Homo sapiens: one gene and its partners. The protein of the gene in region 1 purifies or fractionates together with the protein of each later gene. This does not show direct contact. Each region holds a gene or a part of one and is shown on either strand. Other genes may lie near its edges.

The links.
Region 2: the proteins of POTEB3 (region 1) and AP1G1 purify together in Homo sapiens (co-immunoprecipitation; 2 studies listed by BioGRID and IntAct, with this or other methods). This does not show direct contact.
Region 3: the proteins of POTEB3 (region 1) and TPM2 purify together in Homo sapiens (affinity purification with mass spectrometry; one large-scale study listed by BioGRID and IntAct). This does not show direct contact.
Region 4: the proteins of POTEB3 (region 1) and ARHGEF7 purify together in Homo sapiens (affinity purification with mass spectrometry; one large-scale study listed by BioGRID and IntAct). This does not show direct contact.

The regions. Positions count from the first base shown.
Region 1 is NC_000015.10:21,425,930-21,432,513, forward strand, and holds part of POTEB3 (POTE ankyrin domain family member B3), read right to left. Parts: intron 5,917-6,584; coding exon 5,810-5,916; intron 4,473-5,809; coding exon 4,335-4,472; intron 3,057-4,334; exon of another isoform or gene 2,950-3,056; intron 1,827-2,949; coding exon 1,756-1,826; intron 320-1,755; exon of another isoform or gene 99-319; intron 1-98.
Region 2 is NC_000016.10:71,797,893-71,804,476, forward strand, and holds part of AP1G1 (AP-1 complex subunit gamma-1), read right to left. Parts: intron 1-6,584. UniProt on the Homo sapiens protein: Subunit of clathrin-associated adaptor protein complex 1 that plays a role in protein sorting in the late-Golgi/trans-Golgi network (TGN) and/or endosomes.
Region 3 is NC_000009.12:35,683,132-35,688,462, reverse strand, and holds part of TPM2 (tropomyosin beta chain), read left to right. Parts: intron 1-2,682; coding exon 2,683-2,816; intron 2,817-2,911; coding exon 2,912-3,029; intron 3,030-3,123; coding exon 3,124-3,194; intron 3,195-3,323; coding exon of another isoform or gene 3,324-3,655; coding exon 3,656-3,731; intron 3,732-3,912; coding exon 3,913-3,975; intron 3,976-4,147; coding exon 4,148-4,217; intron 4,218-5,221; coding exon 5,222-5,304; 3' UTR 5,305-5,331. UniProt on the Homo sapiens protein: Binds to actin filaments in muscle and non-muscle cells. Plays a central role, in association with the troponin complex, in the calcium dependent regulation of vertebrate striated muscle contraction.
Region 4 is NC_000013.11:111,301,267-111,307,312, reverse strand, and holds the end of ARHGEF7 (rho guanine nucleotide exchange factor 7), read right to left. Parts: intron 5,836-6,046; coding exon 5,781-5,835; intron 4,323-5,780; coding exon 4,200-4,322; 3' UTR 1,581-4,199; downstream 1-1,580. UniProt on the Homo sapiens protein: Acts as a RAC1 guanine nucleotide exchange factor (GEF) and can induce membrane ruffling. Functions in cell migration, attachment and cell spreading. Promotes targeting of RAC1 to focal adhesions. May function as a positive regulator of apoptosis.

The DNA of each region.
Region 1 (6,584 bases):
TTTACAGTCCAAAGCATTCTACCTGGTAAATTTCCCATGGCCCACAGGGTAAGACCTACTCATTTCTATAGTATTAAAAAAGTCTATCATAAACTTGCCTTAGCTAAGTATTCACCTCATTCCCAAACTCTGGTGTCTCACACTTTTGGTACTAGCAAAAGTGAACTGCTCAGAAACCCTGCAAAGTTCACTCGGCATCCTGTCTTTTGCAGTTGTTGCTCTTCCTGCCAAACAGGCAATCTCATCAGATGTTCTTCTGGCAAACACACAAACTTGTTGCATGTTCCTTCTGCCAAAAATTATTCTTCTGCTTCTTTACCTAGAAAAATTCTTCTCACTCTGCATGCTTACTTTGAATCATACCTACTTTTTTTCAAAACTTTCATTCCTCATCACGTATGTCTGGCACATAATTAATACATAATAAATCATAATTATAAGCTTCCAGTTGGCATCTAGCACACAGTAAGCACTGAATAAAGTAGTAAAATAATAAAAGTGACAATGATAATAACAAGCTCCTGTCTGTATTTTTAATTGTGTGTGTTCTGTAGCATTAGAAAAATGATTAGTATCTAAAAGACATTTGATAGTTATTTGTTAAGTGGACAAGTGAAAACATAGAAATGTTTTCTTTGTAAATTCTGTTGAAAAAGCACAGAAATGAAATAGAGACACCTCTATTATGAGCACCTTAAAGATCAAAACTACATCTATTCCATCTTTGTCTTCTGCAACTTATAAAACCTAACTTACAGAAGCTTTTTGATAAATAGATGGCTAAATTAAAGGTGTCCTCATCCAGTTTGGATTATACAATGTATTAGGTGTCCACAACCAGGTGGCATACTAGTATTTTTGTTAATGTGAAGCATTTTTCTACTTTTATTATAATCTGCTGAGCCTAGAGTTGGGCAATTTGTATATTTATTATGACAATCTTTTGGTAAATGGTAGCAGAGCATCTTGTTCTAACAAAATTACTGTTATCAAGACAATTGACCAGCAGGTAGAGAACACATCTTGTTCCAACAAAGTAAATGTATCTCTTTCCAACTTCAAATGAGGAGGAATGAAGTCAGTAAGAGTGAGACCTTGTTGGGACAAGGATATGTAACATGACTTGTGCTTTGGCGTTCTTTTGTGATCAAAAATTCCTTACTTTTATTTTTTTATCTACGGTAGGACCACCCAGAGCAGGGGTCCACAACTCCCAGGTCACAGACTGGTACCAGTCCATGGACTATTATGAACCACACCACACAGGAGGAGGTGAGCAGCAGGCAAACCAGGGAAGCTTCACCTGTACTTACAGCCACACCCCATGGCTCATATTACCGCCTGAACTCTGCCTCCAGTCAGATCAGTGATAGCACTAGATACTCATTGGAGCATGAACCCTATTGTGAACTGCTCATCTGAGGGATCTAGGTTGTGTGCTTCATATGAGAAACTAATGCCTGATGATCTGTCACTGTCTCACTTTGCCCCCAGATGAGACCATCTAGTTGCAGAAAAATAAGCTCAGAGTTTCCACGGATTCTACATTATGGTAAGTTGTATAATTATTTCATTATATATTACAATGTAATAATAATATAAAGTAGCACAATAAATGAAACATGGCTGAATAATCCTGAAACCATCCCCACCTTCCCCCAGCCCATGGAAAGACTGTCTTCCACAAAACCGGTCCCTGATGCCAAAAACATTGTGGACAACTGACCTAAAGTAATTCATTATCACAAGTCTTACCTGGATTGCTGTTTTCAGAAGAGATTTTTAGCATCTGTTTTTCTTTATAGTCAGAAAGTAATTCACAAATTCTATGTATAAAAATGTAATAAACCAAATTACTATTTTAATACTGATATAAAAAATACTTACCAAATGTAAGATTCTTAGAGTATTTCAAACAATATCATAATATCAGAATTTAACAGTATTATCCCATACACTTATGAGTACATTCTACAAACTTTTCTTTAAGCTTCTAATTAAAGAAGAAAAAAAATTAGGTGAAATGCTCATAAATCAAGGGCACTGTGACCCAGTAAATCAGCAGGCATTAGCATGACATAATAGAAAGTGTCCCAACTCTGCATAAGTCCTAGCTCCATAATGAACAGCTATTTGTTCTTGGACAACTTTCTTCTCTTAGGCTCAATGTCTTCTTCTACAAAGTGAGGACTTTGCTGCCTTATTTCACTAGGTTGTTATAAAGATTTAACAAGGTAACATTTTTTAAATGCTCAGAGAAATAGTAAAGCAATGGAATAATCTGTTCCTAAACTTTATGACTAAAATTATCTTGGAATCCCAAATAAAACCCCATGTGTATTTTGTTCATAGGTTCTAATATGCAAATGCTGTAGTTTTCAGGAAATGTTATTAAGTCCTAATTTTGCTTCTTAGTTGTCCTACTCCTTATGGCTTATCATTCAGGGCATCTCAACTGTGTCATAGTTTGTAACTAAATTTTTTCATAAATCTCTCATTAAAGTAGATAATGTGATTGTCCACTATTACGGAGTTGACCAATTTGTTGTGCTAAGGGCAGAAAAACCAATGGATGTTAAGACCTGGCTTGGAGCAATGATCCTTCTCTACAGACTCAAACTCTGAGCCAGCAGATGTTTGTTAGGATAATGCTTTATATTGATGTTCAATTCCAGCTGACATGGGAGACCAAAACTCTACTTTTATTTTTTTTCAGTTTTCATGAAGAAGCTGCAAATTGACATTCTCTAATTTTTGACGTACATACTTATAATATATTTTGCACTGAACACATTATTCAGCTCTAAATCATCTCACAGACCATCTTCCATGACTATTTTTGCAGCACAAATCACATTTCGATATTTTGGTGGCACCCATTTTGCTTTGATTCACACTGTTTCCTTAGAGCTAGCCAGCAAATAGTGAAATGATCTTCCAGTGACTGCACAAAATATGGAATGCTTCAAAGAGTTGTGCTGCCTCCTTATGCAGAAGCCGTGCTAACTTTCTCTGTATTGTTCCAATTTTAGGATATGTGCCGCCAAAGCAGGCACAAAGCCCTACTTTTACACATGATTTGTGATGAGTCATGGGCAAGGCTTGGCTCTTGTCCATGACTCATCACTACTTACTTAACCCACGTGAGATTCTGAGAATTCTCTTCAATGGCTTCCTGTGAGGTACAATTTGAAAATATTTTAAAATCTTGAGCTAGAGATGGAAGTAGCTTGGACGATTTTCATTATCATGTAAATCAGATCACTCAAGGGGCCAACCACAGCTGGGAGCCACTGCTTGGGGAAGGCTCATATGGGACTTTCTACTGCCTAAGGTTCTACACAGGATATAAAGGTGCCTCACTGTGTAGATCTGGTAGCAAAGAAGAAGAAACAAACACTGATCTCTTTCTGCCACATTATTTGAACCCCTCTGACCCTTTATAACAAGCCCACCTCATATCTGCTAGAGAAAAGACCAACAACGGCCTGAAAGGATCTCTTACCATGAAGGTCTCAGCTAATTCTTAGCTAAGATGTGGGTTCCACATTAGGTTCTGAATACAGGAGGAAGGGTCAATTTGCTCACTTTGTGTGCGGATAAAGTCAGGATGCCCAGCGGCCAGAGCAGGGTGCTGGTGCTTTGGGAACAATGGCTGAGCATATAAGCATAGGTAAGGGAACTAAAAAATGTTGTAACTTCAAAGTCACTGTGTGAATCCCCATGAAGACTTGAGGGATCTGAATCAGTAAGGGCACCTTGGTGTCAAAGGTCAACAATTACCAGGCAGCAGAAGCAGTTTGAGTGGCAACAATGCAGCAACAGAAACAATGGAAACAACAGAATGATTGGAATGTCCTTTTTTCTCTCCTCCTTCTGACTTGATAAAAGGGACTGTCTTCCTTGGATTTAGTGAACCCCTTTGGTTCTTGAAAAATTCAAGGAGTATGTAGGAGACAGTCCCCAGAAGACAGTACAAGGCTTTCTGCTAAACTGGACATTTCAAGACCCAAATAACTAATCAGAAAAATCAAAGATGTGATACTCTTTTTTATGCCATGCATAGGTGTTATACTTGGATGAAATGAACAATATTGGGATCTCTAAGGATAAAGGTCTTAAAAGTCCTGAGGTAAAGAATCCTGCACCCATTGGTACTTCTAACTTGTCTTGCTTTTTGTCTGATTTCTGGCTGATGCAGGGGACTAACTCACTGCCACTCTAAAACTACCTGAACCAAACTATGACATCTCACCTGATATGTAAGATGCAATTGTTATAATTATTTTAAACCTCAATTTAGCATTAACTAGCCTTTTCATGTAAACACTTACACATGATGATGACTAGAAACAGCATACTCTCTGGCCGTCTGTCCAGATAGATCTTGAGAAGATACATCAACATTTTGCTCAAGTAGAAGATTGACTATACTTGCTGATCCACAACATACAGCAAGTATGAGGGCAGTTCTAAAATTACAGAGATAATTTCTCCTTTAGAAACTGTAATAAAGTTATTTTAAAAGCTAATTTGATATACTTTACCAATTTGACATCTTGCCTGTCCATGCAGAATCAAACATTTACATGCGCTAAAAGACATAAGCATCTTGGGTGCTCAAGAGTTCATCTTTGTAAAATACCACCAAGGTTAAAAGGAAGGGACAAAAAGGAAACCTCTTATCTCAGTGGGGTATTGCATAGCAGAAGCTACTAATTTAAAGTCCTTTGATGGGCAAGAAACAATGCTAGGGCCACTTATCTGAAGTGGACAAAGATTTAAGTGAAGATTTTGTCACAGCTTCCCTAGACTGATATGCTGTGATAGAAAATTAGCTAGGGGCTAAGATAAATAAGAGCTCTCTGCATGCTGAAAGCAGTAATATTAATAATAATGGTAAGAATAGTAGTCACAGGAGTTTCAGTTAATGATGCCAATAAGCATGTGCTACGCACTGAATTAAATGCCACATGTATCTTTCTTGCTTATGCACAGCCAACTTTGAAGGATATATTCTCCTACTTTTCACATATGACAACATATTGGGTGGTAAATCACGTTCCCAATGTCACACACGTAGCAAGTAAGAAAGTTAGGAATTAAACCCAGTCTTGTGTGAATCCAAAGCGTAGCTCTTTTCTCTTTGTCACCCACCTACAGCTTGCCTTCATTAAAGGAAAAGTGTATCCACTTAAAACTATCTTCACTCCCTCTCTCCATACCAACTAAAAATAAAAACATCAAAATACACTGGAAATAAAAAAGGAAAAAAGCTGTTGAACCCACAGTATGTGGGAATAGCAATTAATTGTCATGTAGGGATAAGCTAACATTAATATTCTTCAAAGAAAGCAACTTAAAGCAGAGTCATTGAAAAGACAAAAGGATTTTCAACTCCTATTTATGTTTAATACAGCATATTTAGTGGAAAAGCATATAAGATACAGAGGTTAAAACCTACTAGAAAGGGTTAAAAAGTTCAATACTGAGTCATAAAGTAAACTGAAAGTTAAAGTTCAAACTTCATAAAATTAATATGAAATCCCTTTAGCTAACATAAGATCATGTAACCAAAAACATCATACAACAAATAACATCAGTCAATATAATAAGAGAAGATGAATCCTACTAAAACAGTTCTTTATGTTGCCCAGTCCAAATAATTGCTTTTCTACTTAACTGATTTGTGTTGATACTGATCACTATGTCCCAATAAGTATAATTTGATCTTATTAATTTATTATTTATGACTTGAGTGACTGCTATCAATCTAGAACAACACACAGATTAAAAGAAATAACCATACCTTCCATATCTATCAAGTGCATTTAAATTAGCTTTTTTCTTGATTAAAAATTTCACCACTTGCTGTTTTTGTTCATGTACGCCAAGCAAAAGTGGTGTGAGGCCACACTGTAAAACAATATAAAACAAAAACAATATGTAATTCAAAAAATTATGTATCTCTCAACTGAACTGGAAGCTTATGGACTTACACTCACAGAAAGTAAATAAAATTTGGTCGCTTCCTTCTCACTCTTCTGTACTTTCCCACATGCCACTCCTTCCCTTGGAAACATCCCTTCTCTGCCTCACCACATTAAATCTGATCATCTCAAAAACTCACTTTAAACATTTACTGTTTCCAAGACTCTTTGTTTCTAAATGAGCATTTGGCATGGCACTTTTGGATGATTTTTTTTTTCATTTAAACAAAAAGCTTCTTGAGGGCAGGGGCTGTATCTTTTATCTCTATTATTATCCAATCCTAAGACAAAATTGTTGTGTATAAAGCAAGAATTTGAATGTAAAATATTTCTTTAGTTTCACATGTTTTACCAAAGTTCAAGCTCCAACATGCAATAAATATTGCTATTAATACTCACACTGCCCATTTCAAGAATTTTTTCCAACATTTATTCATTTAAAATCTATTTGTATTTAATTTTTCCAGATTGTTAACTAGATAGATAATCAGTTCATAGGATTACTGAAACTAAGAGATTTCCTATCTGTATTCTTAATAACTCCATGGTTTTTAGTGTTTAAACCTGCCATCCTGATTAAGCCAAAGCTCTACA
Region 2 (6,584 bases), on another chromosome or scaffold:
GTGGGGGAGTTGTCCAAAGAAAATTAAAGATGGTATAATATTTACTTTTAATTAATGTATCTGATATTAACTAGTTAGAAATGGAGGGTAAACAGTCCCATTGACAATAGTGTCAAAATAAAATACGTAGGAATAAATTTAGTAAGAAAGGTATAGGAACTATACGAAAAAAACTACGAAATCTATAAAATATTTGTTGAAAGACCTAAAATAAACTTGAACAAACAGACACACACTACAGCAAGGAAAAATTATCATCAAAAACTGTTAAGGCTGGGTGCGGTGGCTCACGCCAGTAATCCCAACACTTTAGAGGCCAAGGTGGGAGGATCACTTGAGGCCATGAGTTAGAAACCAGCCTGGGCAATACAGTGAGACTGTGTCTCTACACTGCCTCCCAGATTCAAGCAATTCTCCTGCCTTACCCTACCGAGTAGCCAGGACTATAGGCGCGTGCCACCACGCTCAGCTAATTTTTTTGTATTTTTAGTAGAGACAAGGTTTCACCTTGTTAGCTAGGATGATCTCAGTCTCCTGACCTCGTGATCCGCCAGCCTCGGCCTCCCAAAGTGCTGGGATTACAGGCATGAGCCACTGCACCCAGCTGGAATGGATTCTAAGACAGTTTCAGAAACCAAAGAGGAAAAGAGGGATATATATAATTACCTGAAAATGTCTGTGACATAAATAAGATTAAAAGATAAATGAGGCCGGGCGTGGTGCGGTGGCTCACGCCTGTAATCCCAGCACTTTGGAAGGCAGAGGCAGGCAGATCACCTGAGGTCAGGAGTTTGAGACCAGCCTGGCCAACATGGCGAATCTCTGTCTCTACTAAAAGTACAAAAATTAGCCGGGCATGGTGGCGGGCACCTGTAATCCCAGCTACCCAGGAAGCTGAGGCAGGAGAATTGCTTGAACCCAGGAGGCAGAGGCTGCAGTGAGCCGAGATCACACCACTGCACTCTAGCCTGGGCGACAAGGGTGAGACTCTGTCTCCCAGGAAAAAAAAAAAGGATAAATGAAAGACAAGAAAAATACACGTGCCATATAACAAAGAATTAACATTCCATAAGCGCTCCTACAGGAGGAAAAAAAAAGAGAAAGAAAAATGAAGCAAGGACATGAGCAGACAATTCTCGGTAAAGGAAATCCAATGGCTATTATACGTATCAAATAAGGCTAGCCCCAGTAACAGGGAAGTTAAAATTAAGACAAACTGCATGACCCATTTATCATCTAGCAGACTAGTAAAAATTAAACTATGTATTTATACCCAGTGGTTTCATGATATGGAGAAGTTACTGCTATTTGGGATGAAAATTATGATAACCTATTTAGAGAGTAATCTAGCAATAATAATATTTAAAATATATTTCTCTGTTAACCCAGAATTCCCCCTTTGGAGACTACAGAAATAAAAGCATCAGCATATAAGGCGGCATGTACAAGGATATTTATTGTAGCACTTTGTTAAGTGGCAAAAATCTAGAAATGATCTAAATGTCCACAGGAAAATAATAAATTATGGTACATCCACGCTATAAGACACAATAGGACTGTTTAAAGGAACAAGATAGAATTATATTTACTGTGGGCTGAGTGCAGTGGCTCACACCTGTAATCTCAGCACTTTGGGAGGCCACAGGAGGCAGACTGCTCAAGTCCAGGAGTTTGAGACCAGCCTGAGCAATACAGCTATATCTCATCTCTTATTAAAAAACTAATAGGCTGGGAGCGGTGGCTCACACCTGTAATCCCAGCACTTTGGGAGGCCAAGGTAGGCGGATCATGAAGTCAGGAGATCAAGACCATCCTGGCTAACATGGTGAAACCCAATTCTACTAAAAATACAGAAAATTAGCGGGGTGTGGTGACAGGTGCCTGCAGTCCCAGCTACTCGGGAGGCTGATGCAGGAGAATGGCGTGAACCCAGGAAGCAGAGCATGCAGTGAGCCGAGACTGCGCCACTGCACTCCAGCCTTCGTGACAGAGCGAGGTTCCATCTTAAAAATAATAATAATAATAATAATAATAAAAAATTATATTGGCTGGGTGCGGTGGCTCACGCCTGTAACCCCAGCACTTTGGGAGGCCGATGCAGGCAGATTGCTCAAGCCCAGGAGTTCGAGATCAGCCTGAGCAACATAGCAAAATGTCATCTTTTAAAAAAATAATAATAAAGAATTATATTGCCGGGCACGGTGGCTCACGCCTGTAATCCCAGCACTTTGGGAGGCCGAGGCAGGTGGATCACGAGGTCAGGAGATCAAGACCATCCTGGTTAACATGGTGAAACTCTGTCTCTACTAAAAAAAAAAATACAAAAAAATTAGCCGGGTGTGGTGGTGGGCGCCTGTAGTCCCAGCTACTCGGGAGGCTGAGGCAGGAGAATGGCGTGAACCCAGGAGGTGGAGCTTGCAGTGAGCCGAGATCGCACCACTGCACTCTAGCCTGGGTGATAGAGCAAGACTCCCCATCTCAAAAAAAAAAAAAAAAAGAATTATATTGGCCAGGCACGGTGGCTCACACCTGTAATCCTAGCACTTTGGGAGGCCAAGGTGGGAGGATCATGTGAGGTCGGGAGTTCAAAACCAGCCTGACCAACATGGAGAAACCCCCCCGTCTCGGGTCGGGTGCGGGGGCTCACGCCTTTAATCCTAGCACTTTGGGAGGCCAAGGTGGGCAGATCACGAGGTCAGGAGATGGAGACCATCCTGGCTAACATGGTGAAACCCCATCTCTACTAAAAATACAGAACATTAGCCAGGCGTGGTGGTGGGTGCCTGTAGTCCCAGCTACTCGGGAGGCTGACGCAGGAGAATGGCGTGAACCTGGGAGGCAGAACTTGCAGTGAGCTGGGATCGCGCCACTGCACTCCAGCCTGGGCAACACAGCGAGACTCCGTCTCAAAAAAAAAAAAGAAAGAAACCCCATCTCTACTAAAAATACAAACTTAGCGGGGCATGGTGGCACATGTCTGTAATCCCAACTACTCGGGAGGCTGAGGCAGGAGAATCACTTGAACCTGGGAGGCGGAGGTTGCGGTGAGCTGAGATCACGCCATTGCACTCCAGCCTGGGCAGCAAAAGCAAAACTCCGTCTCAAAAAAACAAAACAAAAATGAATTATATTGGCTGGGCGCGGTGGCTCATGCCTGTAATCCCAGCACTTTGGGAGGCCAAGGCAGGCAGATCACTTAAGGTCAGGAGTTTGATACCAGCCAGGCCAACATGGCGAAACCTCATCTCTACTAAAAATACAAAAATTATCTGGGTGTGGTGGCAGGTGCCTATAATCCCAGCTACTCTGAAGTCTGAGGCAGGAGAATCACTGAACCCAGGAGGCGGAGATTCCCACCACCTGGGTGACAGGGTAAGACTCCATCTCAAAAAAAACAAACAAACAAAAAAAAAGAATTATATTTACTGACCATGACATGTTAAAAAAAAAAAAAAGCGTGTCATAGAGTAATATAAATAATATGATCTCTCTTTAGTAAAAACAAAAAATTCCTATGTACACTTACGTGAGTATGTACAGTACTTAACTAAGCATTGAGAGAAATATTGAAGCGTAAATTCATTCATAATCTGTTAAAATTTGGGGTTAAAATTAAGACTGTCATAGAACAGATGATGTAACACTACAGGGTAAACACTATAGGGTAAACATCCCTAATCCAAAATCTGAAATTCTCCAAAACCTGACATTTTTTGATTGTTGACATGATGCTTGAAGAAATGCTCTTCAAGGCCGGGCGCGGTGGGTCACGCCTGTTATCCCAGCAGGGGAGGCTGAGGCGGGCAGATCACAAGGTCAGGAGATCACGACCATCCTGGCTAACATGGTGAAAGCCCGTCTCTACTGAAAATACAAAAAATTAGCCAGGCGTGGTGGCGGGCGCCTGCAGTCCCAGCTACTCTGGAGACTGAGGCAGGAGAATGGCATGAACCCGGGAGGCGGAGCTTGCAGTGAGCCGAGATTGCGCCACTGCACTCCAGCCTGGGCGACAGGGCGAGACTCCGTAACCAAAAAAAAAAAAAAAAAAGAAAAGAAAAAAATGCTCTGCAAGTGTTTCAGATTTTGGATTTTAGGATTAGGGATGTACAAGTGGTGTAACGCAAATATTCCAAAATCTGAAAAAATCCAAAATATGAAACATTTCTGGTCTCAAGCATTTCAGATAAGAGATACTCAATGTGTATTTGGTTGAAAGAGCTAACTTATATAAATGATTATACAGTTGTACAACTCAAAGTAAAAGGAGTTCCATTAGTGTTTTTACAGCTCAAGTTAGTGAACCTATTTAACTAAACCTCAAAACTAAACAACTGAAAAAGTGTTCAGTCTTAAAAGGAAGCAAAAGAAGCGTTTTTTACTTACCTCTTTTTTTTGAGACAGTCTATCTCTGTCACCCAGGCTGGAGTGCAGTGGCACAGTCTTAGCTCACTGCAGCCTTGAACTCCTGGGTTCAAGTGATCTTCCTGCCTCAGGCTCCCAGGCAGCTAAGGCTACTGGCAAAGACACCACAACCCAGCTACTTTAAAAAATTTTGGGCCAGGCGCGGTAGCTCATGCCTGTAATCCCGGCACTTTGGGAGGCCGAGGTGGGTGGATCACCTGAGGTCAGGAGGTCAAGACCAGCCTGTCCAACATGGTGAAACCCCATCTCTACTAAAAGTACAAAAATTAACTGGGCATGGTGGCGGGCGCCTGTAATTCTAGCTACTTGGGAGGCTGAGGCAGAAGAATCGCTTGAACCCAGGAGGCGGAGGTTGAGGTGAGCCGAGATCGCACCACTGCACTCCAGCCTGGGTGACAGAGCAAGACTCTGTCTCAAAAAAAAAATTCGTACAGCCAGAGTCCCACTGTGTTTCCCAGGCTGGTTTCAAACTCCTGTCCTCAAGTGATCCTTCTGACTTGGCTTCCCAAAGTACTGGGATTACAGACATGAGCCACCAGGTCTGGCCAGCGAAGTTTATTTTTAGGTTGAGAAAACACGTAACATCTTTACATATCTTTGAAAGATTTAAAATATTTTAGCCAGGCTCGGTGGCTCACACCTATAATCCCAGCACTTTGGGAGGCTGAAGCAGGTGAATCACCTGAGGTCAGGATTTCGAGACCAGCCTGGCCAACGTGACAAAACCCCGTCTCCACTAAAAATACAAAAAGTAGCCAGGTACAGTGGTGCACGCCTGCAGTCCCAGCTACTCGGGAGGCTGAGCACAAGAATCGCGGGAACCCAGGAGGTAGAGGCTGTAGTAAGCTGAGATGGCACCACTGCACTCCAGCCTGGGTGACAGAGTGAGACTCTGTCTCAAAAAGAATAAATAAATAAATAATAAGATGTTTTTATTTATAAATTACAAAAGTCACATGTATTTTTTCCTCATCTTTTAAAAAAATGACTTCTTCCTTCTAAACCTACTTAATTTGTTGCCAACATTTATGATTTACTAATTAAATCTCTCCAATGGTCTGAGTAGGCTTTTTTTTAAAGTAAAATTTCCAAGTACCTAGTGAAAAAAAGCATTTCTCATTTCAATCATCTCATCCTAAACCTTGCCCTTTTATGCTAAAGTGTTAGTTAATGCTGACTCAACACATTTGGCAAGTGAGTTTTTTTTCTCCCACTTCTGGACCCTTCAAACTTTAACCAGTTTTTCCAGCAACCAAAACTCATGCCATATTAAGTGTATTGTGTTACTAGGTCAGTGAAGAAAAAAACTTAACACGTATCTTCAAAGTAAAAATGACACCTCATTCATGCCTGTAATCCCAGCACTTTGGGAGGCCAAGGCTGGTGGATCACTTGAGCCCAGGAATTCAAGATCAGCCTGGTCAACAGGGTGAAGCCCTGTCTCTACTAAAAATACAAAAATTAGCTAGGCATGGTGGCGCACACCTGTAGTCCCAGCTACTCGGGAGGCTGAGGCAGAAGAATTGCTTGAACCAGGGGGCGGAGGTTGCAGTAAGCAGAGATGGCTCCGATGCACTCCAGCCTGGGCAACAGAGGAGGACTCCGTCTCAAAAAAAAAAAAAAAAAAGACACCTCTTTTCCCTTTTCTATTTCTTGACCTCATTGAAATAAAATTTTCTATACAAAAAGGCAACTGTAAAAATGCTACTACATTTTGATAAACATATTTTATTTATTTATTTTTTTTTTGGAGACAAGAGTCTCGCTCTGTCCCCAGGCTGGAGTGCAGTGGCGTGATCTCAGCTCACCACAACCTCCACCTCCCAGGTTCAAGTGATTCTCCTGCCTCAGTCTCCCGAGTAGCTGGGACTACAGGCGCGCACCATCATGCCCAGCTAATTTTTCTATTTTTTTGTAGAGATGGGGTTTAACCATGTTGGCCAGGATGGTCTCGATCTCCTGACCTCGTGATCCACCCGCCTCGGCCTCCCAAAGTGCTGGGATTACAGGCATGAGCCACCTCGCCCAGCCAACAAAGATCATTTCAAAACCTGTAAGCCAAGAAATACAAAAGATTTCTATATGCTCTCTTAATTTTTTTTTTTTTTTTTTGAGACAGAGCCTCCATCTGTCACCCAGGCTGGAGTGCAGTGGCGTGATCT
Region 3 (5,331 bases), on another chromosome or scaffold:
CTTCCTGCCATTCCCAACCCCCAGCTTAAGGTAGGAGAATGGCCATATGGCTTTGGTGTGGTGGTAGTTTCCCCATTCTCTGCCTCAGTTTCCCCATCTTCCTTCCACCCAGGATTGTTTTAAGATGAACCTATGGTTAGATTAGCATAAAGCATGGTCTGAACATCAGAGATGACATAGCTGTTTGTGTCGACTGCTCATGTTCCCAGCCCCCCAGGGGTTGGGCTTCTGTGACCTCCAGCCTCCAGTTTTGGTTCTCCACCAGTCCTGGCACTTGGGAGGGAGCTGACCTGCAGCTGCTAGCACAGACAACCCTGGGCATCTGACACTCTATAAATAACCAAGGCCCAGTGCAGCTGGAGGCAAGATTGGAAACCCAAGTTGCTGGTGGGGGCTGGAGGGGCAGGGGGGACAGGGACAGAGCTGGGGAGGCAGAGCCGCAGCACCAGGAGCAGATAGGAAAGACTGCCCAAGCTTCCTGGTGACCTTGAACACAGCACTCAACTTACATGGTGCCTCAGTTTCTCCCTCTCTCTTGCTTCCCATTTTTCTAATGGGGACAGTAGTGCCTGTCCTGTGGTTAGAGAGCCGCCCCCGTAACTGGGAAGAGCTTGAGAGGCAGGAAATGGCACATATCAGTCCCATGATGAGGACCCCAGGACTTCCCAAACTTTCCAGAGTCTTTTGTCACCCCACCATCATGCAGAGTTTTTCTTTTACAGTCTCACCTCTCTCTAGGGTAGTACTCCAATGTCCCCCACAGTGATTCTTCCCAACCCCCAATGCTGTCCCCAGAATGCTTCCACACTGTCATCCGGCCCTGTGCCCATGATGGGCTCTTGTCACTCTAGGTGGCCAAGCTCCAGGTGCCTTCAGCACCTGGAAGACAAGCTACCATCTACTCTCTATATATGGTGCTGTTTCTCCTGCCCTACAGTCCGACCAAGGACCTGCTTCCTATGCTGTGTCCAAGTGCTGCCCCCAGCCCCTCCCCCCACCTCCTTTCCCTACACAGGTCCTCTCTCCTTTCCACTCTGAAATCTCAGGGTCTCTGTGTCCTTGTTTTTGACAGAGAAAGGGGATAACCTAATATTTATGGAATGTGGACCCTGTGCAGGCAATGTACTCAGTGCTTTCTGCATGTTATTTTACAATTTCCCAAACTTGGCTTATCATCAGAATCACTCGGGGGCTTTAAAAAAAAAAGAGAAGATTCCCAAGCCCCCGCCCTACACATCCCAATTCAGTGGATCTAGCATGGAGTAAGAGAACCTGTTTAGTTTTATGAGTCTCACCGAAGGTCCTGTTGATTAACTGAGTATTAAAAGCAGTGGATTATCTCAGAACAGCCTTAAGAAGGAGGAACTGTTATTGTTAACTCCAACTTGTGAAGGAGGAAACTGAAGCTTAGAGAGGCTAAATAAGTTGCCCACAGTTACACAGGTGTTGAGTGGCTGAGCCGTGGCTCAAAGACAATCTGACTCAGAGCCGATGCTCTTAACACGTGGCTGCCCTGCTCCTCTCATTTTCCTTTACTGGCGCTCGCCTTGCTCTGCCCTTTTTCTCAGTGTTTGACCAGTTTTTATGGATTTTTTCCAAAACCTCCATGGTTTTGCCTCCTACTGCAAGCCCAGGGGCTGAGTAGACATCCCTCACACTGCCCCTGCATTGCCCCCAGCTCTCTGCTGGCCTTGGCAGGGAGCCCCTTGCTACAGCCATGGGTATTCCTTATAGGCCTGCCTCTTGGGCTTCTTGCTGGGAGTCTGCCTTACAGCTGATGACAGATGACATCACTGAACTTGATACTTTTTTTTTTTTTTTTTTTTGAGATGGGATCTTGCTATGTTTCCCAGGCAGGGCTCCTGGGGTCAAGCTGAACTCCCGCCTTAGCCTTCGGAGTAGCTGGGATGACAGGCATGCACCACCATGCCCAGTATCACTGAGCTTGATTCTGTGACGGGCTATTCTTAGCAGCAGTGATGTCTGGTTGGCCTGATTCTCCTCCCATCCCCTTACCTGGGCCAGGCTTTGCTGTGTAGGAATCAGAGCTGCATCAGACCTGGCCCCAGCACTTGAAGTGCTCCCACAGGGAACAGGAGGACTTGTGTGCAGGTGACCTTTGGGAGACTAACTGTGCACAGTGCAGGAGAGGCCCTGCAGCAGGGGAGCGGAGCTTGTCAAGCAAGGAATGCATGTATTTTTTTGTTTTTTTGAGATGGAGTTTCGTTCTTTTTACCCAGGCTGGAGTGCAGTGGCACGACCTCAGCTCACTGCAACCTCCGCCTCCTGGGTTCAAGTGATTCTTGTGCCTCAGCCTCCCAAGTAGCTGGGATTACAGGCATGCGCCACCATGCCTGGCTAATTTTTTATTTTTAATAGAGACAGAGTTTCACCATGTTGGCCAGGCTGCTCTCAAACTCCTCACCTCAGGTGATCCACCCGCCTCGGCCTCCCAGAGTGCGGGGATTACAGGCGTGAGCCACCATGCCCGGCCTGAATGCACATTTTTTACTGGAGCACAGTCTGGGCAGAAGATGATTGGTTGGGGAAAAATCACATAGAATGTCTAGAAACCAGGAAGCCTCAGTTCTTTCTGAGAAGAATCTCGCCATCCTCTGGAGCCTCTCTGATCCTTATCCAAGGCTAACAAGGCCTTTTTGACCCCTGACCTCTGACCCACAGGCTGAGGCAGATGTGGCCTCCCTGAACCGCCGCATTCAGCTGGTTGAGGAGGAGCTGGACCGGGCCCAGGAGCGCCTGGCTACAGCCCTGCAGAAGCTGGAGGAGGCCGAGAAGGCGGCTGATGAGAGCGAGAGGTGGTCAGGGGCCTCGGGGAGGATGGTCCGGGAGGGAGAAGGGAGCCTGTCTCTGCTGGTCCTGACCCTACGCTCACCCTCTCCCTGCCTTTCAGAGGAATGAAGGTCATCGAAAACCGGGCCATGAAGGATGAGGAGAAGATGGAACTGCAGGAGATGCAGCTGAAGGAGGCCAAGCACATCGCTGAGGATTCAGACCGCAAATATGAAGAGGTGACAGCCTTGCCCCTCTGCCTGCTCGCTGCCCAGCCTGCAACATGCCCAGTCCTTCTCCACTGATCTACCCTCTCTTTCTCACTCCCCACAGGTGGCCAGGAAGCTGGTGATCCTGGAAGGAGAGCTGGAGCGCTCGGAGGAGAGGGCTGAGGTGGCCGAGAGGTAAAGATACCCGGGGGTGACAAGTGAGCCCATTGGCCCTGGGGCCTTCCACACAGTGGGAAGGTAGCATCCTAGGCTTGGGGCTGTAGGGACAGGCCCTGTTCTCTGACCCCTGCCCGCTGCCCCCAGCCGAGCCAGACAGCTGGAGGAGGAACTTCGAACCATGGACCAGGCCCTCAAGTCCCTGATGGCCTCAGAGGAGGAGGTAGTGACCCCTCTGAACCTTTCTGGGCAATGGCGCCTTCTCTCAGCTCACCTTCCCTCCGTCTCAGCACCGCAGGCTGCTCTTTCTCAGCTGCTGGGGATCAGGAAGGGCCTGGGGCTTCTGAGCCCTGCCTGCTGTCACTCTCACAACTTTGCTCTTCTCTTCTCTCCTCCACCCGTCCCCTGCTGTGCCATCTCCACTGTCTGGCTTCGCTGTGCCCTCACACCCTGCCCCCCCCGCCACACACCCCCTGCAGTAAATGTGGGGACCTAGAGGAGGAGCTGAAAATTGTTACCAACAACTTGAAATCCCTGGAGGCCCAGGCGGACAAGGTAGAGGGGAGCAGAGGGGCAGTGAGGATGGGGTCCCACAGGGGAGGGAGGTGAGGGGCCCAAGGCAGGGAGGGGCTGGGTGTTCAACGGAGGCAAGATGACCAGGAGCCTACGGGGTACAATGGAGAAATGAAGGATCTGTGGTAGCGCTGTACTGATGGCGTGTGTGTGTCCCCAAAAGTATTCCACCAAAGAAGATAAATATGAAGAGGAGATCAAACTGTTGGAGGAGAAGCTGAAGGAGGTGAGAGTCCTCTTCCAGTTCCCAGTCTCCCCTCAAGCCACCCTAATCCTTGCCAGAGACGGCCTGTGGCAGGACACTTGAGGGTTGGGATGGACAAGAAGCTTGACTTAGGCAGTAGTCTGTGGGAGGGCCTAATTCTTTGCCATTTCTCCCATCCTGCCTTTACCCCCAGGCTGAGACCCGAGCAGAGTTTGCCGAGAGGTCTGTGGCAAAGTTGGAGAAAACCATCGATGACCTAGAAGGTAAAAGAAGCCTTTATAAGTAGGTCCACACCTGCCGTGATTATCAGTCTGTCCTGTACCTTCTCATCCCATTTTATTTGCCACCAATAAACTAGGGTTGGGCCACCTAGGACCCTACCAACTCCCCAACTCTGTGGGCCATGTCTACAATTCAAGTAATTGTAGCTGCCCACGGCGCAACAACTCCAGTGCTTCTCAAACTTCAGCATGCATGAGAATCACTGGGAGAGTTTTAAAAACAGATTCCTTGACTCTGCCCCAAAGAGATTGCTGACTTTGGGCTGGAGGATTTACATTTCTAGCTAGTTCTCTGGTACTGCCAATGCTGCTGGTCCTCATGCCACACTCTGAGTGGCACCCTTATAGACAATTCCGTCCCCGAGTGTAACGCAGTAGAGTTCTAGTGCAGAGACTGGCTTATTAACTAGAGAGCTGTTGGACTGAACATCTAGGTCTGCATGACAGCACTAATAGAAAACACTATTTTAAGCTAGATTTGACAAAAGCAAACATCCAGATATTTGTGAGTCTGTGGCTATTTCTATTGTTAATGATGATGTGGCTAAAGTTGCCTTTCCTTTTTATTCTGTGATAACCCTTTCACTTTCCCACTTCTCTCGCTTCCAGCCTTCTCAGGCAAGCTCCAATTTTACCTCCAGCTTTAGGAGGTTTGCCCTTTCTGGCTCCAGCACCCTCCCTCTCCCCTCTAAGCAAGCACTCCTGCTTGTCGAGAGCATTGTACACACAGCTCCCTGGAGAGGCAGGAGCTGCCATGGGTAGAGCCAATTTGGGGTACAGAGAAGGACAGAAAAGAGATGGGGTAGAGATGGGGAGAAGGAGTTCCTGACAGCTGTCCAGCCTGTTCCCTGGCCTCCCTCTCTCACTCTGTCTTTGTGTACCTCTGATTCTGTTTTTCTTTCCATTGCTCTCTCTCCTTCCTTTCCTCTTTCCCTCCACTCCCTTTCCCACACTCCCACCTGGTCCCCTCCCTGGACCCCCCCCAGATGAAGTCTATGCCCAGAAGATGAAGTACAAGGCCATTAGCGAGGAACTGGACAACGCACTCAATGACATCACCTCCCTCTGAGCCCCACGCCAGCGTGGCCACCTCAGC
Region 4 (6,046 bases), on another chromosome or scaffold:
ACGAAGAGCATGTTTCGGAGTCAACGGCTTCCATGGGAAAGCATCACAACGAAGAGCATGCTTCCCATGCCATCATGGCCCCATTCCTTCTTTGAGAAACTAGAACTGTACAATTGCCAAGGCTGTCATTTCCAAAACACCTTGTAAAAATATGGCAAATTCTATCAAAGTTAAAAATGCACAAACGTTTCCAGAAGTTAATCATTTAGCTGTATGTGCACAGTTGCACAGCTGTATACATAAGGATATTCAGTAGAGCATTTCTGCAATAGCGACTGCCCCCTCCCAAATATCCACTCATAGGTGACAAACTGCAGGGCACTCAATCAGGGGAATATTTATGCAGTGGTCAAAAATGATGAATGGTTCAAACTACATATACCCATATGGAAAGATAAGGTTCAAAGAGGCAACTTAGGAAAGAATATACTTAATGCAATCTCACTTGCTGGGAAAAAAGTTAAAACACAGACACCACACACTGGCATTTGCTCAGAAGAATGAACAGAAGAACCTAAACGCAGAACAGGAGCTACTTCTGGGGAACAGGGTCAGGGCGCTGGGAGGCAGAATACATGCTTTTTACTTTGTATCCTGGTATACTGTTTCTATTTTCCGTATCAACAGGTATTATTTTAACAATTAAAAACTCTGGTACATGCTAGTTTTTAATTAGGAAAATAATACCTGCTTATGGGAAAAATATAAATAGTTCTGCAAGAAAATGAAGTATACATGGCCCAGTATACCTTTAAAAAGTGTACAGTTAAAAAACGGTATACATGGCTCAGGTACATCCTAGTTTTTAATTACTGGTGAGGTATCAAGTACAAATGCCTACCTACTCCACCAGTAAGATGAACAATTCACATTAGGTGTCTTATGCATCGCACGTTCTTGTCACAATGCAAATCAACAGAAATGGGTTTTTGAACGCCTACTTGTTTTAACCTGAAATGACTAAAGTCCTTGAAAGTGTAGATCCTGACTTCTTTTGAGCTCCTACAATAAGCCAGTGGGCTGGGCACTGCGTGTGGCTACCTGACCTCTGGCTGGCTGAAATGACATGCAGCGGAGCTGTAGACACACCTGAGCCAGGTACACGGACCATGGACAGGAGACCCCGCTTGGTCCTCCCGGCCACCCTTCCGGAAGACACCCTCGTTTGCACCACCGCCACACAGGGACACACACGAGCAATTTCCTTTTGTCTTATGACAGCTCCTAAAAGGGACCCCACAGATATCTTCAAGAAAGTTTCGCTTACTTGATCCCACAAAACGGTGTCCTGAGCGCCTTCCAGAATGCAGGTCATTCCTCCAGGCATGGGTGAGGACCTGGGGGCTGTGCCTACCAGCGTGACCTGTTACTTCAGCTTTTGTTCCTAAGACTTCCAGTGTTCTTTCCTTGTCTTTTAAAAAAAAATCTTCAAATTTTCTCAAACTCTAGACTTTAAAGGAAACATGTTATCTTCAGTATCAAAGACAGACAGAATTTTCAAATCTAAAACAGCCCAAAGAAACTGTAAAGCTAACAAGCACACAGAAAACACATCAAAGAAGACGAAGCGACACATTCTGTGACATAAGAAAAATAATCAGTTTAATAATTACAACAGTGTAGCATCAACATTGTAGTAGTCAACACTAGGACATTGTCTGTGACATTTAAATTAGGAGTTTCTCCACACTTGTCAACAGGCGCCCTGGGTGTCCCAGAGAAGTGAAGAAATGATTGGCATTAAGGAGTCCACACAACCAGGGCAGGCATTCAAGGTCCCAGACGCCCAGCGCATGTGGACAAGCACAGACGCCACTGAGTGTGAAGGAACGAGCTTCTGATGCTACATTCCAACATCGCTGAAAACTGAAAGTGCTTCACATCTACAGGATAAGAAATGGCTTCATCTCCTCATCCATACAAGGTGAGAGCAAAGGAGTAACCCTCGGGCAAATCGTGGCCCCTTTAAACGTTTATATCAAGTTCCCACCCCCTTGGGAGGTCACACGGTGAAACAGACACAGTTATATACAACAGGGCAGGTTTTTAAAAAGAGTTGCTCTCAGACGCATTTTTCCTGCTCCCTAAAAAGCCGAGGAAGATACTGGATCCACAGAAAGAAAAGGCAATGCCGTAACATGAGGCCCTCATGGCCGCACCGTCCAGGGGAAGGGCTGTTAAAAACACAAGTATTCTTGTGAAATACTTCGATCTGAGCATTAAGGCAGGTCTGCAGGAGATCCGTCCTGGGGACTCGGACAGCAACGCTACCGGCTCCGAGAGGACAGTTAATGTCGCCTCCCGGCAGAGGGGCGGAGAGATCAGACAAGAGTTGTTCCTGAGTTAAAACCTGCTACAACAGCAAACTCCAATAAACTCAAGTTGAATGGTTTCCCACTGCAATGTCTTACGCATCACCAAAAAATAACTTGTAAAACTCAAGCTTACCAAAAAAGAAAGTGTTGATCTTTGCTTGTGCCCGCATGAGTGAATGATCTGCTAAGTTGAGGAAGCTGGCAATTCTAGTGAAAAGTCCAGGTGAGGCCAGGTTCTGCAGCATGGGGCAGGTCCACGCTGAGCCCAGGCAGACAACGTGACCAGTCACGGAAGGAAGCCAAAGGGGCTTGCTGGGCACCAGAGACTGTAATTAGCAAGGGCAAGGAAGAACCGTAAACAGCAACACAACACTCTCCCAAGGTGCCCAGCTCAAAGGCATCAGTACACAAAGGATTCAGGTGCAGTTAAAGGGCAATTTGGCCAATAGACAGAAAATCAGAGAGTCAAATCTGATGCGCAATGAGTTGTTCTGAGACCAGTAATCCACGGTGCTGCAATTTGGGTTTTTAAAGATAGAACACTTGTTCTACGGAAAAGTGTATCTCACTTTAAAACCAACCTTTTCACAGGAAAGGAAACCAAAAGCAAAGTCCCTGTGGTCACCCTTATTTATTGCTGAAGCAGAACGAAAACCTGCTCCACGGGCCGGGCTTCCTGCCCAGGACCGCACAGGCTTTCCAGAGCCAGCCTGGGCCCAGCGAGCCGCGGTGAGGACAGGCTTCGTCTCCTCTGCACTGGAACACAGTGGGGGAAACGTTCCCTGCTTATGCCTATGTTACTTAGTGGAACCTAAGGTGTATATTGCTTTATTCTTGCTGAAGGAGGGGATTTTACTTTCGGTGAGCACTGAAGCCTGCTGGCTACGGCCAATGGTGGAGGAGACCTCGGGATGAGGCTGGCCTGATGACAAAACTCCACCCATCAGTATCAGCCTGCAGCATGGCCTCCATCTGTTTTCATCAGCTGCAGTGACTTATAATAAATAATACATTCTATTTACAGGTTCTAGTAAGATCTCTCTTTGAGGGAAGACAAAACAGTGTATTTTGTTGTTACTGAACTAGCCTATACAGAACCGTCTGTGTCCTCCCAAAACGCAGCAAACTCATCTGAGAATCACAGTACTCAGACAGCGGACAAGAGCAAACACCTCTAGGTGGATGCGGCAGTGCCGTATGGGCCTTCCTTGAGGTCAAGACTGAGTCTGTCAGCCAGCAAGTTGCCCTCAGAAACCCGCAGGTCTGGGACTGTAATGCTGCTTTAAGAGAAGACTTCTGAATGGGACTGAAGTGTATCTCTGCAGGTATAAATAAGGTTATTTAGAAATACCGACATGGGGGGTGCTGCCACAGCACGGTGGAGGCCCTGGTGCTGCGGAACGAACCAGGCATCCACCAGGCTTCTGCTTCCGGTGGATGCGGGCATGGGACTTCTTATTCACGTAGCTGGAAAGGACATTCTAGCATGGGGATTAGCCCGGACAGAACCACCACAGGTATGCATTCAAAATGGGATATTTACAAGAAACATGTATATATAATATTTATATATTCAATTCAAAGTCTGGAAAAACAAGACTTTTAGTCAGTCACTGAACTTATTGCAGAATGAGGTAACTGAGATGTTCACAGAGTGGATTGATGTAGCTCAGGTCCTCAGAGTCAATCCCTCCTGTCTGGATTCATCAGTCATGGTTTGATCGTCTCCATTCGCAGAATAAGCTCCAGCTTTTCTATATACAGAGAGCAAGGTGGCGCCCCACCCAGCCCTGCCCTGTGGTCCTGAGTGCACCCCGACTTGGGTCAGGGGTGCCCAGCTTCACCTCAGAACTGGTCTTCAACAGAAAGAACTGAGGACATCCCTTATAGATTGGTCTCATCCCAGGCAGGATCATTCATGTTCTTCAGGACTTTCCTCACCAGCTTCTCCAGGTCTTTGCGGGCTCTCTGTTCTTCCTCTAGAGATTTCTTCATCTTTTTGTTGTCCTGTAAATTAAGCAGACCACAGGGTGTTCACTATCTTTGGCATCGCGTAGGGCTTCCTTTCCCCAAATGTGTATCCTTGAGGAGCTAAGGCCTCGATTCATGAAATCCCACGTGAGCTGCCTATGGGCTCTGAGGTCGTGGGGATCCACGAAGGTCAAACACCTGGACAGGGTGGCAGCGGTGCTCCTGACTGTGCTGCTGTTCCCGGGATGGAAATGGTCCTAATGGCTCTTATTAAGTCCATGAATGAATCTCTATAGAACATACCGTAAGAAAATAGCTGGAAACTGCGGACGAGACAGCTCCTATCCAGCCTTTTTGTCCATTTATAACCACCTTCCAGAGTTACAGAAAGGACTGGAAGTAACAGCCACTGACAGGTGCAGGAGCAAGTGGGCGAGCACCTGCTCTGTGCAGCTGAACCCAGGCATGTCTCGGACGTAGGAGGCATGCACAAACAGATGCCTGCTGCCGGTAGGGGCAAAGCGTGAACATGGAAGCCTGCCAGCCAGGCAAAGGTGTACCTGGAAGACCTGCGGACACTGCTTAGAATGACAGCACATGTCCAGTTCCACACAGCAACCTGCTCTCAGCTCTCTATCCCAGACCACAACTCTTCTCAGGCTGTTCCTCGGCCAAAAGAACACCCCAACCTTCCCTCACCTAGCTGGGCAGAGGACCAAAGCCGCTCGTACTCACATTCCGTGCAATGAACACCCCAACCTTCCCTCGCCTAGCTGGGCAGAGGACCAAAGCTGCTCATACTCACATTCCGTGCAATACCCAGAACACCCTTGGTTAGTCGCCACTTCTGGCTCGCTAACCTGGCTTCGGGAGCCAAGGACCATGCAGTGGCAGAGGCTAATCTCAGGGGCGCCTCGCAGGATTTGTCACCAGACAGAACTTTCGATATTTTAAATTATTCTTCCAACAGAATTTGCGATGTTTTATGACATCAAAATCAGTATTGTTAAGAAAAAAAAAAGAGTTTAAACAAGTCACTTTAGAGACAACCAATTATTTTATCTGCTGGACTTCTCAAAGACATGACCTCCTTTTAGTTTTTTGCTTATGGACAATCAGCTTTTTATTTTTATTTGAGACGGAGTCTTGCTCTGTGGCTCAGACTGGAGTGCAGTGGCACAATCTCGGCTCACAGCAACCTCCGCCTCCTAGGTTCAAGCAATTCTCCTGCCTCAGCCTCCCAAGTAGCTGGGTTACAGGCACCTGCCGCTATGCCCAGCTAATTTTCGTATTTTCAGTAGAGATGGGTTTTTGCCATGTTGGTGAGGTTGGTCTTGAACTCCTGACCTCAGGTGATCTGTCCACCTCGGCCTTCTAAAGTGCTGGGATTATAGGTGTGAGCCACCGTACCCAGCCAGCTTATTTTTAATGTAATTTTCTTCTTTTCTCCCATTTGAAAAGAAAAAAAAGATTTAAAGATGGATTATGACGTACCTGTCTTAATTCTTGAACTTCATCCTTTAATGCATATACGGTATCCACAAGACTCCTGAAACAGGAAACAGAACACACACACATGAACAAGGTGAGGCATGGAGAGGACACACGAAAACTTACCAGGAGACACTACGATGCTGAGAGGAGGACACGGAGCTGCTCTGCCTTACCCATGTACTGTCTACATTCACAACTAAAAACTGCCAACCTCTGTGCATGGCAGGTTCAAGCCTAGTCAAGGGCAACTTCAGCCTATGAAGACA